Homo sapiens: one gene and its partner. The protein of the gene in region 1 binds, or shares a complex with, the protein of each later gene. Each region holds a gene or a part of one and is shown on either strand. Other genes may lie near its edges. The genes, in order: FLCN and LAMTOR5.

Region 1 (3,814 bases):
TGCCCACCTCGGCCTCCCAAAGTGCTGGGATTACAGGCATGAACAACCGCACTCAGCCTATTTATTTAATTTTTTCGAGACGAAGTCTCACTCACTCTGTCACCCAGGCTGGAATGTAGTAGTACGATCTCAGCTCACTGCAACCTCCACCTCCCAGGTTCGAGCGATTCTCCTGCCTAGGCCTCCCAAGTAGTTGGGACTACAAGCGTGCGCCACCACTCCAGGCTACTTTTTTTTTTTTTTTTTTGAGATGGAGTCTCGCCCTGTCATAAAGGCTGGAGTGCAGTGACCTAGTCTTGGCTCACTGCAACCTCCGCCTCCCAGGTTCAAGTGATTCTCCTCCCTCAGCCTCCCAAGTAGCTGGGTTTATAGGTGACCGCCAACACGCCCAGCTAAGGTTTTTGTTTTATTTTGTTTTGTTTTTGTTGTTTTTGGTTTTTTTTGAGACTGAGTCTCACTTTGTTGCCCAGGCTCGAGTGCCGTGGTGCGATCTCGGCTCACTGCAACCTTGCCTCCCAGGTTCAAGTGATTCTCGTGCCTCAGCCTCCTGAGTAGCTGGGACTACCAGCGCACACCACCACACCTGGCTAATCTTTGTATTCTTAGTAGAGGCAGGGTTTCACTGCGTCGGCCAGGCTGGTCTCAAACTCCTGACCTCAAGTGATCCACCCGCCTCAGCCTCCCAAAGTGTTGGGATTACAGGCTCATGGGATTACAGGCATGAGCCACTGTGCCGGCCTCTCCTAGCTAATTTAAATTTTAAATTTAAGTTGTCACACATAGCTGTGGCCACCGTATGGACAATGTGGGTCTGGCTGCATGTGTCAGGCTGTGTCACATGTCAGGCTGTTGGCTGTGGCTGTCCCCACTGTGCACCTTTGCTTTTGCGGTCTCGTTTCCAGAACTTCTCTGCCAGTGAGAACCCCATGACACACCCCCATTTTAAAGCCTTCTCTGGCTTTCCTGCATTCGTTAGGAAGGCATACTGCCTCATGCTGCCGCGGCCATCCCTCTGCAATGAGTGCTTGGTGTCCCTCAGACTTTGTGCCTGCAGCTGCCCCTGGCCTTCACATGGTTCCGCCGGCATCGCAGCTGTACTGTGGCCAAGCTTGGGGCTTTCCTTGACTCCATGTCCCCACCAGGTGTCCCATTGCTGGCTCTGCCACGGAAACTCTCCAAAGGGCTCTCTCTACCCACTCCTGTGAGCTTTTTCTCCACCGGAAACTGTGTTAAGGTCACCTTTGACTTCATCATTGTTCTGCAGGTTACCACTCCCCCTTTTAAAAAGATTGTGGTGAAATAATACATGACCTAAAATGCGCCATTTGAACCACTGTTCGGCGTGCAGTGCCGTGGCATGAAGTATGTTCACAGTGCTGTGCGGCCATCGCCACCTTCCGTCTCCAGAACTGAGCCCCGCTCTTCCCTCCCAGTCCCCGGCAGCTGCCATTCTGCTCTCTGTCTCTATGGCTTTGAGGACTCTAGGTACCTCCTATTTAAGTGGAATCCTACAGTGTTTATCCGTTTGTGACCAGTGTAGATCATTTCGTGTAATGTCCTTCAGTTTCAGCCGTGCCGTAGCTTGTGGCAGGGTTTCCTTCCTTTTTAAGGCCATGTGACATTCCAGTCCCACCTTGCTAAAGCAGTTTACCTGGTCACTGGGGTGACTCTGGAGCTCCCCTCTGGCCTCACTGCCTGTGCTTGGTCATGTTGGCTAGCTGTCCTCCCTTCTCCACCTCTGAGTCTACAAGGGCTGCACTCCACGGAGGTCCCATGCGTCAGCCCCGACCGCAGCGCTTGGCTCTGCTGCTGTGTCCCGTCCCCGTGAAGGCTCAGCAGGCACTCACTGGGCCTTCTCCCCTGCTCACTGCTCCGCACTCTGCACCCCACCCGCACTGTGCGTCTTCACCCTGCCTGGCCTGGGCCACTGTCCCTTCCTGCTCAGATCAGTCAGCAGGGTGCCTCAGCTTGTTCCCCACCTCCACCCTGGCCCCCTGCCATCTTTTCTGCACATGGGCATGAGTGAACCTATTCAAGTGAAATTCACATTTTCTCATGTCTCATCAGAACCCCCAAAGCCTCCCCAGTCTCTGATAACACATCCAGGGTCTTTCGGTGGCCTGGAGGAGCTATAAGATCTGCTTCCTACAGCCTCCACCCTGTCTGCTGCTGCTCTTTGGACACCGGACCTTACACACCCCTCAGACAGTACAGCACCCACCCTGCCCTTCAACTCTTGCTTGGCCCCGTAAGCCAGTCCTTCCAGGCTCCTGCCTCCTCTGGTCATTCCCTGCGTGGGCCTCTCGCAGGAAGCAGTTTTCCTGTGTCCCCCGCCGACCCCCTGCAGGAGGTAAGCTGCATGAGGGCAGTATCATGTTGCCTAGCACCTTGGCCCACATGGAGCAGGTGCCAAGCAGATATGTATTGGGTGGAGGACCCTCTCCCTGTGGCCTTTTATCTATTTGTTCTCACAGGGTTTGCCAGGTTTGGCTGCAGTTCATGTCACTTGAGGACATTCCTTTCCAGCGCCGTTGGCTTTGTGGCTGTGGCTCTGTCACAGCTCCAGCTGTGCTATCATTGGTCCACATTGTCCCCTCCCCTATTTGCTGTGACTCCCATGGGAAGATCCTATCTCTGTTCCTCTCGCACTGGGGCAAAGCAGTGCTGGCAGGGGGCTGGGGAACTGGCGGGTGGCCTCTCCTGGGCAGGAAGTCCATGGCACCCAGGTGCTCCCTGTGCTCCAGAGGGGCTGGGGAGGTTTCATGGAGTCAATAGGCATTGGCAAGCTGACATGTCCCCTGTCCCACGCAGGCCTGTTGCAGTCTCCAAGGCACCATGAATGCCATCGTGGCTCTCTGCCACTTCTGCGAGCTCCACGGCCCCCGCACTCTCTTCTGCACGGAGGTGCTGCACGCCCCACTTCCTCAAGGGGATGGGAATGAGGACAGTCCTGGCCAGGGTGAGCAGGCGGAAGAAGAGGAAGGTGGCATTCAGATGAACAGTCGGATGCGTGCGCACAGCCCCGCAGAGGGGGCCAGCGTCGAGTCCAGCAGCCCGGGGCCCAAAAAGTCGGACATGTGCGAGGCAAGTGTCTTTGGGGTCTTGGTTTTGTGATCCCTGCAGTAGGTGTGGGATGGACAGGAGGACCTGAGAGCAGTGGACGGGGCCTCCCGGGGTGACACAGACTGCTTCTCAGGGGCCCTTCAGTTCTTTCCGCTCATCCTGACTGTAGCTTTTGTTTTGTTTTGTTTTGTTTTTTTTGAGACAGAGTTTTGCTCTTATTGCCCAGGCTGGAGTGCCATGGTGTGATCATGGCTCACTGCAACCTCTGCCTCCCGGGTTCAAGCAATTCTCCTGCCTCAGCCTCCCGAATAACGAATTACACTTGCCTGCCACCACGCCTGGCTAATTTTGTATTTTTAGTAGAGATGGGGTTTCACCATGTTGGGCAGGCTGGTCTTGAACTCGTGACCTCAGGTGATCCACCTGCCTCGGCCTCCCAAAGTGCTGAGATTACAGGCGTGAGCCACCACACCCAGCCTATGTTAACTTCTTTAACCCACTCTGCCTCCCTGCCGTGGCCTTCATGTTTGTATTCACACACTCCAGCCTGTCCTGGAGGCGGGTCCCCAAAGTCCCGTGCTCCCAGTGGAGTTTCCTGCTCCCAGGACCCCCAGTGTTCTCGGTGGGTCACTCCATCAGCTCTTGAACTCTCGGGAATTAGTGTGAGTTTTCCCCAGTGGGCCACTTGTTTTTGTGGAGGACCTGGGTCAGGGCCCAAAATCAGGGGTGGGTGTTGGACCTGCCACTGCAG
Region 2 (4,256 bases), on another chromosome or scaffold:
ATCACGAGGTCAGGAGATCGAGACGATCCTGGCCAACATGGCGAAACCCCATCTCTACTAAAAATACAAAAATCAGCCAGGTGTGGTGTCGTGCGCCTGTAGTCCCAGCTACTCTGGAGGCTGAGGCAGGAGAATCGCTTGAACCCAGGAGGCGGAGCTTGCAGTGAGCTGAGATCGCACCACTGCACTCCAGCCTGGCGACAGAGCAGGACTCTGTCTACTGAAAAAAACAAAACAAAACAAAACAAAAAACGAAAACGTAAAACATAGAAAACTCGTGTTACTGTTTAAGTCAGTAGGCTACTGAGGGGTCAAAAGTTACATGTAGATTTCTGACTGCACAGGGGTGGGATCCATGGACATACCTGTGAGAATGTAGGTATTTCAGGAAGCTTCTTAAACAAAAGTAATTTAGAACAAAGACCTTTTAAAAAAATTACAGTTTGATAACTGAACAAAAGGAACATTTGGTTAAGTTTAAAGAATCTAGAAAAGATCCATTTTCCTCCAAACAGATTTATTGAATACAGCAAAATTCTATATACAAAGTGACCTGGACCTGCTGCTTCAAAACATGATCCTTTCTTACTAATATCTTGATAGTCGGTCCATAGAGCATTAGAAAGCAATTGACTCTTAAATAAACAGAAAAGTGCCTAATGCACATTAAATGAATGGCCTAACTACTGGAACTTTAGTAGTTCTATAAGGTAATTAACATAGGTAGGATCCAGTTCCTATGACAGGCTGCTGAAGAACAGATATGAGCATCAAGAGGCCATTTTGTGCACTGCCACCGTGATGCCATCGTGTTTCTGGATCATAATGTTCCTGAAATGCAGGAAGAAAATATTCAGTAAAACGTAATCAGTGGGACTTCACTGCAAGATTAAAGATGTTGTTTGCTTTAGGATACAATATTTAAAATAATGTAATTGTTTCTACGTATAAAAGCAATATTTAAACATAACAAAACATTTGGGAAATACATAAACATATAGCATGTGAACACGAAATGAATCCTTAATCCTACTACACACAGACAACCACTGTTAATATTTCCCTGGTTCTTTGTTTCGGTTTTTTAGGCACTGTCTTGCTATGTTGCCCAAGCTGGCCTCAAACTCCTGGGCTCAAGCAATCCTGCTTCAGCCACCTCAGTAGCTGGAACTACAAAAAAAAGGCTTTACTGGTCTTTGTTTTCTTTGCATGTATATGATACAGTCATGTGCTGCATAACAATGCTTCAGTCAACAGTGGACCCTACATATGATGGTGGTCCCGTAAGATTATAATGGAACTGAAAAATTCCTATTGCCTAGTGACCTTTTAACCGTCCCAGCATCACATAGCACAACACACTACTCACATGTTTGTGGTAATGCTGGTGTAAACAAATTGTGCTGCCAGTCATAAAAAGTATAGCACATACAATTATGTACAGTACGTAACGCTTGATAATAATAAATGACTATGCTATGGTTTATGTATTTACTATACTTTTTTTCTTTTTTTTGAGACGGAGTCTTGCTCTGTTGCCCAGGCTGGAGGGCAGTGGCGTGATCTCAGCTCACTGCAACCTCTGCCTCCCGGGTTCAAGCAATTCTCCTGCCTCAGCCTCCTGAGTAGCTAGGATTACAGGTGCCTGCCACCATGCCTAATTTTTGTATTTTTAGTAGAGACAGGGTTTCACCATGTTGGTTAGGCTGTCTCACACTCCTTACCTCAAGTGATCTGCCCGCCTTGGCCTCCCAAAGTGCTGGGATTACAAGTGTGAGCCACCATGCCGGGCCTACTTTTTATCATTATTTTAGAGTATACTACTCCTACTTATTAAGACAAGGTTAACTATAAAACAGCCTCAGACAGGTCCTTTAGGAGGTATTCCAGAAGGTATCATCATTACAGGAGATGACAACTCCATGCATGTTACTGCCCTGGATGACCTTCCAGTGGGAGAAGATGTGGAGATAGAAGCCAGTGATATTGATGATCCTGACCCTGTGCAGGCCTAGGCTAATGTGTGTTTCTTCTTTGCTTTTAACAAAAAAGTCTAAAAAGTAAAAAAGTTTAAAAAAAGAATTTTTGTACAGCTGTACAACTGTTTTAAGTGTTATTATAAAGTCAAAAAGTTTTATTGACTCACTCAGAGCAACTTCCAGTGTTGTAAGCTCCATTATGGTAAGTGCCCTATTCAGATATACCTTTTAAAAAATTTCCCTATACCATACTTTTACTGTATCTTCTCTACGTTTAGATACATAAATACCACTGTTATAACTGCCTACATTATTTAGGCTACAAATCTTTGTAGTCTAAGAGCAATACAGCCTAGGTGTGTAATAGGGTGTACCACCTAGGTTTAAGTACACTCTATGATGTTCATACAACAAAACTGCCTGACACATTTCTCAGAACATATCCCCATTGTTAAGCAATGCATGACTGTATGTTTTTTCTTTTTACAAGGCTGTGATAGTAGCAGTTGTATATATATACTTTTTTTCACATATTATTCTGAGGACCATCACTTGGAATATCTTTAGTAATTTTATTGCTTTAGAAGTAATTTTTGGCTGGGTGCAGTGACTCATTCCTGTAATCCCAGCACTTTGGGAGGCTGAGGCGGGCAAATTACTGGAGCCCAGGAGTTCGAGACCAGCCTGGGAAACATGGTGAAACCTCATCTCTACAAAAAAATACAAAAATTAGCTGGGTGTGGTAGTGTACACCTGTAGTCTCAGCTACAACTCGGGAGGCTGAGTTGGGTGAATCGCTTGAGCCCGGTGGGGTTGAAGTCACAGTGACCCATGATCACACCACTGTACTCCAGCCTGGTGCCAGAGCAACACCCTGCCTCAAAAAGAAAAAAAAAAAAAGTAATTTTTATTCTCTGATTAGTTTTCCTTTGTGCTATTTGTTACTTTCTTTTTGTTGGTAAACTGATAGCTTCTGCCAATTCTTATTCTTCATTTAAATAGCATTGTGGCCTGAGAGCACATTAGCTTTAGGGATCAACTTGTCTGTTCCTGTGATTCAAAAGATTAAGAACTTTTCCCAAAGTAGTCTGAATAAGGAATCACTGATGAACACAGGGCCGGCCCCCGCCAATTTTACCAGGAATTTTTCTGAACAAAAAGGAAAGGATCTGCTGAAATCTACTCACCCATTATCTGATTCTAGACACACCACAGGAATATCAGTGGGGTCAGAGGTTAGCTTAGCTGCTTGCTGGGCTAGAACAGATATCACTCCAGCATGCTCATCTGACAGGGTCCCGCGGCCTGGAAAATAGAGATGATATATGTCACCTGATTGCTCATAGAGTATTTCTGCTAAAATAAGCTAGCTGGCTGTTTTAAAATGTCTACAGAATTGTCTTTTTATTAATGTCTGTATTAGTCTGTATATATTATAGTAACTAAATCTCGGGTACAAAAGTACCTATAAATTCTAGGTACGAAAATTAATTACTAAGTGTACTTTACAATATATTTCTGTATATAAAGGCAACACAAAGTTAACTGTACCTGAAACCAAATCAGGTAATAGACATGCCACTATGGCAGAGCATTTGGATGTACTATTACTATACAAAACATTTTGACCAGATCCGATGCCGACGTTTGAGCCTTGAAGGTTTCTTGAAGGAACTCATTTAGTTTTAGATTTCCATACCTGAATTTCAGTCTTTCCATTAGTAAGCCTAGCAAATGCTTCCAAAAATTTACCCTTTTTCTCCCAAATGACTGATCTGCATGTTAAACATAACTGAGTTACACCGATTACCTCTTTCAGTTACCCTTCCAGCAAAAATTCAGAGCTTTAAACATTCCTGCATTAGGAGCAACAAGTCTTGGGTTTACTAGTTGTCACTAATTAACTGAATGCTTTACTTATTTACCTTTCCAAACTTATTTCCTCATGTGTAATTGCTACCATTTATTAAGTATTATGTCTCAGTTCTATGTAAGCATTTTATACATATTATATAACCTTAAAATATCGTGATTAGGCCGGGTGTAGTGGCTCATTCCTGTAATCCCGCACTTTGGGAGGCGGAGGTGGGTGGATCACCTGAGATAAGGAGTTCGAGACCAGCCTGGCCAACATAGTGAAACCCTGTATCTACTAAAAATACAAAAATTATCTGGGCGTGGTGGCAGGCGCCTGTAATCCCAGCTACTCAGGAGGCTGAGGCAGGAGAATTGCCTGAACCTGGGAAATGGAGGTTGCAGTGAGCCAAGATCGTGCCA

The links.
Region 2: FLCN (region 1) and LAMTOR5 share a complex: the UniProt entries of both Homo sapiens proteins name them as parts of the lysosomal folliculin complex.

The regions. Positions count from the first base shown.
Region 1 is NC_000017.11:17,227,159-17,230,972, reverse strand, and holds part of FLCN (folliculin), read left to right. Parts: intron 1-1,142; exon of another isoform or gene 1,143-2,811; 5' UTR 2,812-2,835; coding exon 2,836-3,084; intron 3,085-3,814. UniProt on the Homo sapiens protein: Multi-functional protein, involved in both the cellular response to amino acid availability and in the regulation of glycolysis.
Region 2 is NC_000001.11:110,400,753-110,405,008, forward strand, and holds the end of LAMTOR5 (ragulator complex protein LAMTOR5), read right to left. Parts: intron 3,285-4,256; coding exon 3,167-3,284; intron 832-3,166; coding exon 771-831; 3' UTR 501-770; downstream 1-500. UniProt on the Homo sapiens protein: As part of the Ragulator complex it is involved in amino acid sensing and activation of mTORC1, a signaling complex promoting cell growth in response to growth factors, energy levels, and amino acids.